Linked DNA regions of Homo sapiens: region 2 is linked to region 1. Evidence: fine-mapped expression QTL. A gene starts in region 1. The other region holds a variant in brackets. All regions are shown on one strand. Distances are between the middles of the regions. Region 1 holds the start of TMEM87B (transmembrane protein 87B). Region 2 overlaps TMEM87B (transmembrane protein 87B).

What was found. PIP is the estimated chance that this variant, and not a neighbour inherited with it, causes the effect.
Region 2: its variant is the best candidate, but not a certain one, in a credible set for the expression of TMEM87B in whole blood (TOPMed, PIP 0.76).

What each region holds. Positions count from the first base shown.
Region 1 is chr2:112,052,694-112,058,071 of GRCh38, forward strand. It overlaps TMEM87B (transmembrane protein 87B), which reads left to right and starts at 2,576. Exons shown (of 19, transcript NM_032824.3): 1 at 2,576-3,063. The coding sequence starts at 2,899. RefSeq lists silencers at 1,568-1,617, 1,818-2,547 and enhancers at 3,278-3,347, 3,378-3,717.
Region 2 is chr2:112,108,777-112,114,154 of GRCh38, forward strand. TMEM87B (transmembrane protein 87B) reads left to right here. Exons shown (of 19, transcript NM_032824.3): 18 at 4,123-4,153. Among named protein-coding and RNA genes, the nearest start is that of FBLN7, 27 kb to the right of the region's middle. The variant A/G (reference allele first, on the strand shown) is at 3,113.

The DNA of each region.
Region 1 (5,378 bases):
GAACCACAGGCACGCCACCACACCTGGCTAATTTTTGTATTTCGTGTAGAGACAGGATTTCGCCATGTTGTCCAGGCTGGTCTCAAACTCCTGAGCTCAAACTATCCACCCGCCTTGACCTCCCAAAGTGCTGGGATTACAGGCGTGCCCAGCCACTGTAAACATCTTACGACCATGGGTGGTGACTGGCAAGAAATGTACCTTGCTAGTTTTAAGATGGAGTTATTTTTAAAATGGTGTCACCCTGGCTCTCCTATGCTCCTGTTTCCCAATTTGACAACCAACACGATCTTTCTGATCAGCTCATCCTTACTTAAAAACCATCATTGGGGCCGGGCGCGGTGGCTCACGCCTGTAATCCCAGCACTTTGGGAGGCCGAGGCAGGCGGATCATGAGGTCAAGAGATCGAGACCATCCTGGCTAACACGGTGAAACCCAGTCTCTACTAAAAAATATAAAAAAATTAGCCTGGCGTGGTGGCTGGCGCCTGTAATCCCAGCTACTCAGGAGGCTGAGGCAGGAGAATGGCGTGAACCAGGAAAGCGGAGCTTGCAGTGAGCCGAGTTCGCGCCAGTGCACTCCAGCCTGGGCGACAGAGCGCGACTCAGTCTCAAAAACAAAACAAAACAAAAAATCATTGCCTCTCCAGTGTTCTTAACTAAAGGTGCCATCTGCCTAACTTAATTTAGGAATGCCTGTATGTTTTGGTACTGTTTAAATATTCCCAGCTTTGCCACTCTCCGTCTCACACCAACATCCAGTCATCTGGAAGATCTTTCCATTCCTCCAGTTCTCTCGTAACTAAAACGATTTCAGACTTACCCCTCACTCCCACAGGTAACTCGCCCTTAACTCTTCTTGTAGAACTTAAATTTCATGTATTGTTCTCTCCTTCTGTCCCTCACTTACTTCCTAAATCTCTGGTGGATGTTCCCCTGTGGTCCTGTTACAGTTATTCTGACCTAAACAGAACTGATCACGTTGCTTACTGGGAAGATGCACATGCAATCTCTAGTGTATAGTAGGTCCTCAATAATTACTGGTGACTGGTAAAGCAGCCAAGGCCTTTGGACTATAAATCGATCTTATTCTACGTTAATAACAATATTAGCACAGGATTCTATTCCCTTGCTGGATATTATTTACATTTGATAATGAATGAACTAATTCTCTTTGACAGCAAAACATGTATTCAGCTTACAGCCGAAAATGCAAGGGAAGGTACACAATAAGACGGATCCAAGCCCTGACCCCTCTGAGCTTTAAGCCAGTCAAGTAACTACTTGTTCTGAAAAGTATTAACTGTCCTATTAACGTTAACCTTCACAACACAATGCCTTGTGTTCAACTGGCCTTGGCCTCAAAGCACTTTCCTGGCACATTCCCTGAATTTAAAGAACGGTTTCCATACAGCTGAGAGGGTCGAGGCAGGGGTAAGTGTAGAAGACGCAAGAAATGGAGACACCCTGGGAACAGAACTCTAGACTGCACTCCAACCGTAGCACTTACTAGGCATTCGACTCCAGGACCTTGACACTCGCGCTCGCTGGCGGCGAGCCCCGCCTCCCCACTGCGCCTCATCTCCCAGACAGGCCCCGCCTCCCCACTCAGGCCCCGCCTCCCCACTCAGGCCCGTCTCCTCACTCAGGCCACGCCTCCCCGCCCAGTCCCGTCTCCGTACTAGGGCTTGCTCCAAGCCCTGCTTCCTCGCCCAACCTGGCCTCCCCACTACGGCCTAACCCCAAGCCCTTCTCGTCCAGCCCCGTCTCCACACTACTGCCTGGTCCTCAACTCCGCCTCCCCACTCCGACCCCATCTCCCTGACCAGCCCCGCCTTTACGCTCAGGCTCCGCCTCCCCGCCGGGTCTTGCCTCCAAATCCCGGCCCCGCCTCCACGCGGCCCCGCCTCCACGCGGCCCCGCCTCCACGCTCGGCCTGGCCCCAAGCTCTTCCTTCCTGGGGCACTCTGTCTCCGCACTCCGGCCTGGTCCCGAGCCCCGCCCCGCCTCCACACGGCCCCGCCACCACACGGCCCCGCCTCCACGCGGCCCCGCCTCCACGCTCGGCCTGGCCCCAAGCTCTTCCTTCCTGGGGCACTCTGTCTCCGCACTCCGGCCTGGTCCCGAGCCCCGCCCCGCCTCCACACGGCCCCGCCTCCACACGGCCCCGCCTCCACACGGCCCCGCCTCCACACGGCCCCGCCTCCACACGGCCCCGCCTCCACACGGCCCCGCCTCCACACGGCCCCGCCTCCACACGGCCCCGCCTCCACACGGCCCCGCCTCCACACGGCCCCGCCTCCACGCTCGGCCTGGCCCCAAGCTCTTCCTTCCTGGGGCACCCTGCCTCCGCACTCCGCCCTGGTCCCGAGCCCCGCCCCGCCTCCACAGTCCCGAGCCCGCCTCCAACCCTGCCCTGTCCCCACACCCAGCTTGGCCCCGAGCCACGCCTCCCACCCCGCCCCCACACTCCCGAGCCCCGCCTCGTCTCCACACTCCGGCGGCGCCTCCCTACCCGGCCCCGCCTCCGCGCTCGGGCTGCCAGCCCTCCCTTGCACGTTCCGGCTCCTCTTCTATCTTCACGCCCACGCTAGGCCCTGAGCCCAGCCTCCACGTCTCGCCGCCAACTCCACATCCTGGCTCCTATCTCTGCCTTCCAGGCATCTCCCAGCTGCACGCTCGGGCCCGGCTCAGAGCCCTAAGCCCTGCCTCCCGGTCCTGGCCGGGTTTCCCAGAACTGCACGGCGCCTCTCCGCCCAGGCCCAAGCGCGAGCCCCTCCTCCACACCCGAGTCCGAGCCCCGCGTCCCGGATTCGGACCCGCCTGCCTGGGGCGGTGCTGCACCAGGTGCGGGTGTGGCAGGCGTCTCGGAGCGCCAGGTGCAGCTTCCTGGTCAAGATGGTCGCCGCCTGCCGCTCGGTAGCCGGGCTCCTGCCACGCCGCCGCCGCTGCTTTCCCGCCCGGGCCCCGCTGCTGCGCGTCGCCCTCTGCCTCCTGTGCTGGACCCCGGCGGCTGTGCGCGCGGTCCCTGAGCTCGGGCTCTGGTTAGAGACAGTCAACGACGTAAGTGGAGTGTCGGGACCCAGGCGTGGCACGTCTCGGGCCGTCAGGGCCGTCGTGCGGCTTCGCTTGACCCCGGGCTTGTTCACCCTGCCTCTGCCGGGTCAGCACCGGGTCCCCTGATACCCTCCCTGAGCCTTTTGTCTGTTACAGCCGGGGAGCGGGGAGCGGCCCCTCCTCCGGCCCGACCTGGGCTGCAGGCAAGAGCCGTCAGGATTGCGCATGGGACGGCCCTCGGGTCCGAGCGCTCGGACTGTTACTGAGGGTCACCATGCCCGACGCCGTGGCCCTCATTCTGCTCTGACATGTTTTGGCTGGATCAGGAATCTCTCGGCACATCTAGCAGCATCTTTGGGATTCGACTCTTCCTGTCCGGATGCAGCCACAGTGGGCCACACCCCTGAGGCCGCAGGGAGGACTTGCCAGCGCTTCAGTTTCTGCATAAACTTAGAAAGCGGGTCTGCCGCTTCCTTAAAAAAAAAAAAGAAAGAAAAAATTTAAATGAGGGGGAAACGTGCAGTAGTCACCCTACCTCTATTTCTCTCTTCTTGAGTTCCTGAATTTCTCTACAGTTCCTGTCACAGTTCCGGGAGAGAGAGTGTGTGTGTAGGTGGGGCGGGACTTGTGATTAGGGAGTGCTTGAAAGGCGAATCTGGAGGCATGAGTGGGTGGAAACTCTTCTTTCCAAGGCAGGCTATTAGAAAACTTGGCGTCTGGTAATTAGAGGAGATGATGTGGGAGAGATGCAGGGGCAGAATTATGGAAAGTCTTGCAAAAGAGAGACAGGAAGTCTGGAAGAGGCATTATCTCCGGCTTCTCTGGGGTCAGATGACTCATCCAGCACTGTTTGGGATGGGTATTTTCCACATGCATGAAATAATGTCCAGGTTCTAAAGATGAGACTTATATTTTGATTTCCTTAACCAGAAAAAGAAAGTAGTTCCAAAGACTACAAATACTTCCCACAACACAAAAGCTACTCAGAGGAACACGCTGGGTATCTTTCTGGATCTTTTAAGACCTAGTGCAGCCATTTCCTCCAGGATTGGATTCTTCTGGGTTGGTGACCTAATTTGTGTGCCAGTTATAGTCTGCACATCTCCATTATTTAATTTCCTGAACGGGAAAAAGTAGAACTCAGTGAACTACTCTCATGGCTTCCTGCTGCTACGATAGTGAATAGTCAATATAACTATATTGGAAGTGAATCAGTTGCATGCATATTGTTGGATTACTTGAACATATCTGTATAGATCTTTGCTAAGTGTACTGTGAACATACCTGCAAAGATCTTTGCCAAGTGTACTTCTTCCTGCATGAGGAAGAGAAGTTTGCTCCTTGAGTGCTGCATGACCTTTAGGCTAATTTTACTCCTGTGTGACCCTGGGCCGCCAGAAGTCTAAAAGCCCTTCTCTCCCAAGAGTGGACTTATATTTTCCACATTTCAGGTTGTCAGAAACAGGAAAGGAGAGTGGGGCTTTCTTTCATTTGTACTGCAAATCTATCAGGAAATTTTGTTTCTTTGTTTTTGTTTGTTTGAGACAGAGTCTTGTTCTGTTACCTAGGCTGGAGTGCAGTGGCACAGTCATATGGCTCACTGCAGCCTCAAACTCCTGGGCTCAAGCAATCCTCTAGTCTCAGTCTCCTGCGTAGCGAAGACTATAGGTACATGCCACACACCAGTTAATTTTTAAATTTTTTTGTAGAGATAGGGGTCTCACTATATTGTCAAGGCTGGTCTTTAACTGCTGGCCTCAAGCCATCCTCCTGCCTCAGCCTCCCAAAGTATTGGGATTACAGGCATGAGCCACTACACCTGGCCAAGAAATGGTTCTTTTGAGTGTACAAGGGAGCAAATGGTTGAAGCACCACTGTGTGTCATATGTTAGACTGGTCATTGCTGTTGCAAAGATGAATTTTAGCCACAGCCCCTTCTCCCAAGACGTTCACACAATAATACGGATAACAGATTTATGAGTAGATAGTCATATACACTGTGATATACTTGGGATATTACTGGAGCACCAAGGGGGTCACCTAACCCTGCTTCCTGGAGGAGAGACCTGCCTCAGTCTTTTTTTTTTTTTTTTTGAGACGAAGTTTCGCTTTTGCTGCCCAGGCTGGAGTGCAGTGGCACAATCTTGGCTCACTGCAACTTCCACCTCCCGGGTTCAGGGGATTCTCCTGCCTCAGCCTCCTGAGTAGCTGGGATTACAGGTGTGTGCCACCACGCCTGGCTAATTTTTTATTTTTAGTACAGGCAGGGTTTTTCCATGTTGATCAGGCTGGTCTCGAACTCCTGACCTCAGGTGATCCTC
Region 2 (5,378 bases), 56 kb after region 1:
AATTCTAGGTTTGTGTGGGCATATATTTTCATTTCTCTTGGCTGTATACCTAAAGTGGAATTGCTAGATCATATGGTAACTCTATGTTTAACATTTTGAGGAAGTGCCAAGCTGTTTTTCAAAGCAGCTGCATTATTTTATAATCCTATCAGCAATATATGAGGGTTCCAACTTCTCCAAACTTTTTGTTAACACTTATTATTGTCCACCTTTTTGATTTTAGCTCTTAGTGACTATGAAGTGATATGTCATCGCATTTATGAGTTACTGGAATGCAAACTGCCTTGCTGGGGACTAGTGTTAAATATATTTAACTATGGAATTCAAACTGTCTTGTTGGGGGACTAGTGTTATTTAACTAAACTGTGATAACTGAAATTAATGTATAAATAGTCTGTGCAAAGTAAGAACTGCCTATTCATTATGAAACTAACAATACACTGTTATACTTTTTTATTTTAGCAGTCAGAAAAGGAAAATATGGGTGTATATATTCTTTTATATTTCCCATGTATTTACTTTTTCTTCTTTCTTTCCTCTATATATGAGCTAAGACCTTCCTCCTATAGGTCTTTCTTTAATATTTCTTATAGGATAGGTCTGCTGACAACAAATTCTCTCAATTTTATTTATGTGAAAATGTATTTACTTTTCCTTCCTTTTTAAAGGATAGTTTTGCTGGATATAGAAATCTTGATTGACTTTTGTTTGAGCACTTCCAACATGTCTTTCCAATATCTTCTGGCTTTTGTTGTTTTTGAGGAGAAAGTAGTCATTAATTGTATTGTTCTCATGTGTGTGATGTGACATTTATCTTTTGCTGTTTTTCTGATTTTTCCTTTATATTTGGCTTTCTGCATTGTGTTTATGATATGCCTAAGTATGGTCTTTTTTTTTTTTTTTTTTTTTTGTCTATCCTCCTTGGAATTTGTTGAGCTTCTCAGATCCATGTCCCATGGTCATTTTCCAGTGCCTTCAGCTACTTTTTTTTTTTTTTTTTTTTGAGACGGAGTCTTGCTCTTTCACCCAGGGTGGAGTGCAGTGCAGTGGCGTAATCTCAGCTCACTGCAGCCTCTGCCTCCCAAGTTCCAGTGATTCTTCTGCCTCAGCCTCCTGGGTAGCTGGGATTACAGGCAGGCGCCACCACACCCAGCTAATTTTGTATTTTTAGTAGAGACGGGGTTTCACCATGTTGGCCAGGCTGGCCTCGAACTCCTGACCTCAGGTGATCCATCTGCCTCGGCCTTCCAAAGTGCTAGGATTACAGGCATGAGCCACTGTACCCGGCTAGCTACTTATTTTTGACATTTTGGTCCAGGTTTTGTCAGTGTTTTTTGTGGAAGGGATCATCTGACCTTTTCTGTCCAGCTTTACTTGCTCTCTTGTATTGCAATCACATTCTCTGTGATCCTTTTTTCCTTCTTTGTTTCATTTTCTATGTTGTTTTCCTACCACACATTAAGATTTCTGTTGAATTTATTCTCCCTTGGGTGCCTTGTACTTTTCTGCATCACTGCACTGGAATCATTTTTGTCTTTTTCTTTAATTTTTTTTCTGATTATGATTGATTCTTTGAATTTCTTCATGCTTTGTTTTTATCTACTTCTGCTCTTGGTTTTTAGATTTCTTACTGTAGAATGTTTTTAATATTGCCAAATGTTCTTTTTAAGTTATTGTATTTAATTTGGAGTATTGTGTGTTATAACTATAGTTTTCTTCTACTGTAAAATGTTTTGATTTTCATTTTCCTTCTTTTTTCTTTCCTGCACTGTTATATGGAATTGATTTTGTTTTCCCATTCTGAGAGCTTTTATGATGAAGGTTCCTGGTTTGAGTGCCTTTTTCCATCAGTGCGCATGAATTGTAGTTTCTTTTATGGATGACGTTGATGGTATGGAGTAGGAGAGGTTGGTGTTGTTTTATTTTTCTTTTATTTCTGCAGACCTTCTCCCACCGCCCCCCCCAACTTTTTACTGTCTTCTTTTTATTTACTACACGATCACATCTCCAAGGAATATTCTTCTTTTTTATATATCATCCTTTCCTGAAAACAATGATCGTTCAAGGGTGCTGCTTTTTGTCCCACTCGATTTGAGCCCCTTCCGTGTAGCAGGTGCTGTGAACTTCTTCCAAGTCACTGGTTTTATTCAGTCTGTTGGCACTAAGTGTTGGGCTTTTTTGGAGGGGTTGAATTTTGTCTACGGTTGTCTGAGTCCTCCCACCCCTCTACTATTTTTCCTAAAGTCTCTCAACCCTCTGTTTCCCTACTCTGTGTACCCATGAGCTTGCAGTCACAGCAGGGAATCTGTTGGAATTTGACATTTATTTCTCTATTTACATATAATTTCAAGTTTGTGGTGTTTTTTTGGTAATGCTGAAGGCATGTGTCTTTTGTGGTTTTGTTTGTGATCCTTAGTAATTTTATGGTTTTTTGAGCAAGACTATATGGAGAGATTCAAATTAGGTGGCCACCATTATTTTCCAGATTTGGAAACTCATAACTAAGCATTTTAGAAGGAAATTATTTAAGCAGGCTTACCTCCTACTGTGCCATCACTTCTTGCTGGAAACCAATAAGGCTCCTAGGTAGTTCTCTTTGCATGTGAGGAAGTCACCATTCTCTACTATTTTTTTCTGTAGATAGAAATATATTCTTGGTTACAAAAAATCCTTTGAAATATAGAAGACTGAACTTCTTATTTGATGTCTTCATGAACCATTTATGTGAAATGAGTAGAGCTCTATAATCTAAGATGATTTCCAAAATTTTAGGTTCTTGGGAACCTTTGCTTCTTCACTTACGAAAACTTTAACACAAGAAATGTAGCCCAATACTATCCAAAATTAATGTACAATTTACATAGCAAGTTTAGTATTTAGACTTTAAACACAGAGAAAAGCCTTCCCCTTATACATCTGTGGAAATGGAACAAAAATTTTATAAGTCATGGGACATTTTAAACAGATCATGAATAACCACATGATATGTATTATGAGATATTGGTATGATATTCACTGTGAATTTCCTCATCTTCGATAACCCATGAAGGTGACATTAGCATAGCTTATCTCCCTCTTTAATGCACTGAATCGTTCTTAATAAGTTTTAAGT[A/G]GTCATTAACGTCATAGCAGGGACCGTTGTTGATATTGCTAGTGTTTAGCTCTAAACAAGGTGCCAAGCGTGTAGCAGACTGCCTTCTGGTTCACCTTTCCTCTAACGCCGTCTTCTCCCCCATATTTTCCTTAATCGTATTATTCCAAACAGTCTGCCTTGCCTCCTTCCTCACACCTAGTCAGTCTCCTGGCCCTCCTGGCTTCACCATGGACCGCACTGTAGGTAGCATCCTCTGGCGTTGTGCGTGGCTCTTTCATGGCAAAACTTTGGAACTTGGACATTTCCTTCAGGCTCTCCTCCCTCAGACCTCTGTCACACATTGAGGCTAGATTAAACTTACTTAACATTTGTTACATTCGTCTTTTCTTTATATCTATATTATCTTTGTTGAGCAAAAGTTCTGTTATATAACACTTCTCTCTGGTACCCTTTGCTGGCAGACATCCAGGCAGTGGTCATAATGACACAGAAGTTAAGCAAATGCTGGATTCTGTAAATACCGCCTTTCATAATGTGTTTACTCATAAATGGGTTAGGTCCGCAATAAAATTTTTGGATGAGCACATTTGTGTAATCGTCACCCAGATCAAAAAACAGAATAACACTAAGTGCTCTAAAAAGCCCATTTCCTATTTCCCTTTCACATCAGGAGCCCACTTTCCCAAAGGTCCTGCTGTCCTGAAGTCTACAACTGTAGATTATTTGTGTCAGGTTTTAAAATGTTATCCCTCAATAGATCATCCATTTGCTTTGCTGTATAGTATTCCATTGTCTGAATAACCCGCAATTTACCCATTGGGGTTATTTTCAGTTGAGTGCTATTGAGAACAGCACTGCTGCGAAAACTCCTGCATGTCTGTCTGCGAGCCTAGATGCTCCCTTCTGTCACCTGTGGATACCCAGGAGTGAGAATTAGTGGGCCATGGCATGTGCCTGTATTCGGCTTTCGTGGATACACTGGCCTTACTGTTAACAACATTATCACCTTTTTTTCCCTTTTATTTCAGAGCTCTTCCAGTGTTAGTGGATTCAGATGAGGTAAAATATATTTTTGCATATTTCCTTGGAGCTGATATTTTCACAAAGTAGAGATGTATTTCAGAAAGAAGTTCTGAAAGCTACTTTTTAAGATTATTATAAATTGAACAGACAGAAAGATGCTATGAATTGATTTGTGGGTAAAGTTGAAAGGATTTATGAATAAAGTCCCCATTTCAAACAAGAACAAGATAAATACTTACTGGTATGAAGGAAATGAAGGGTTATTTTATGAAATCTTGAGTTTAAACGATTTTAAGATGGCAGTTTGTCTAAATTAATCTCTGATACTTGTAGACATTTTGCTGAGATATTAAAGTTTCAATCTCATTTTCATTTACTAAGCAGGAAATTTGGATAGAGGATGTGGATTTAGGAAAGTTTTTGGGAAAAAAATTAGCTGTGGATCACTTGGACATTAAGTTGTGTGGCACAAGGCGGGAAGAAATCTGAAGTGTAAGAATTAAAGACTGGATGCACGGAACATTAACTTTCAAAAAGGACGAGTGGAGGGAAGTTAGTGGTAGCTAAGTTGTAACTTGTATGGTGGCTGTAGCACATAAGAGGGGCCAGAGCTGTATACGTTGAAAGAGAAGGAAATGATTTTGGCATCAGTCTGTTATTTGACTGTACTGGGATGGGAAGGTTTGAGAAGGCCTTGCTGCAAAACAGTTAAACTTCAAGATTCATAACTCTACAGAAAGATGTAGCATTACAGAAAGATTCATAACTCTACAGAAAGATGTAGCATTACAGAAAGATTCATAACTCTACAGAAAGATGTAGCATTACAGAAAGATTCATAACTCTACAGAAAGAGGTAGCATTACAGAAAGATTCATAACTCTACAGAAAGATGTAGCATTACAGAAAGATTCATAACTCTACAGAAAGATGTAGCATTACAGAAAGATTCATAACTCTACAGAAAGAGGTAGCATTACAGAAAGATTCATAACTCTACAGAAAGAGGTAGCATTACAGAAAGATTCATAACTCTACAGAAAGATGTAGCATTACAGAAAGATTCATAACTCTACAGAAAGAGGTAGCATTACAGAAAGATTCATAACTCTACAGAAAGATGTAGCATTACAGAAAGATTCATAACTCTACAGAAAGATGTAGCATTACAGAAAGATTCATAACTCTACAGAAAGATGTAGCATTACAGAAAGATTCATAACTCTACAGAAAGATGTAGCATTACAGAAAGATTCATAAC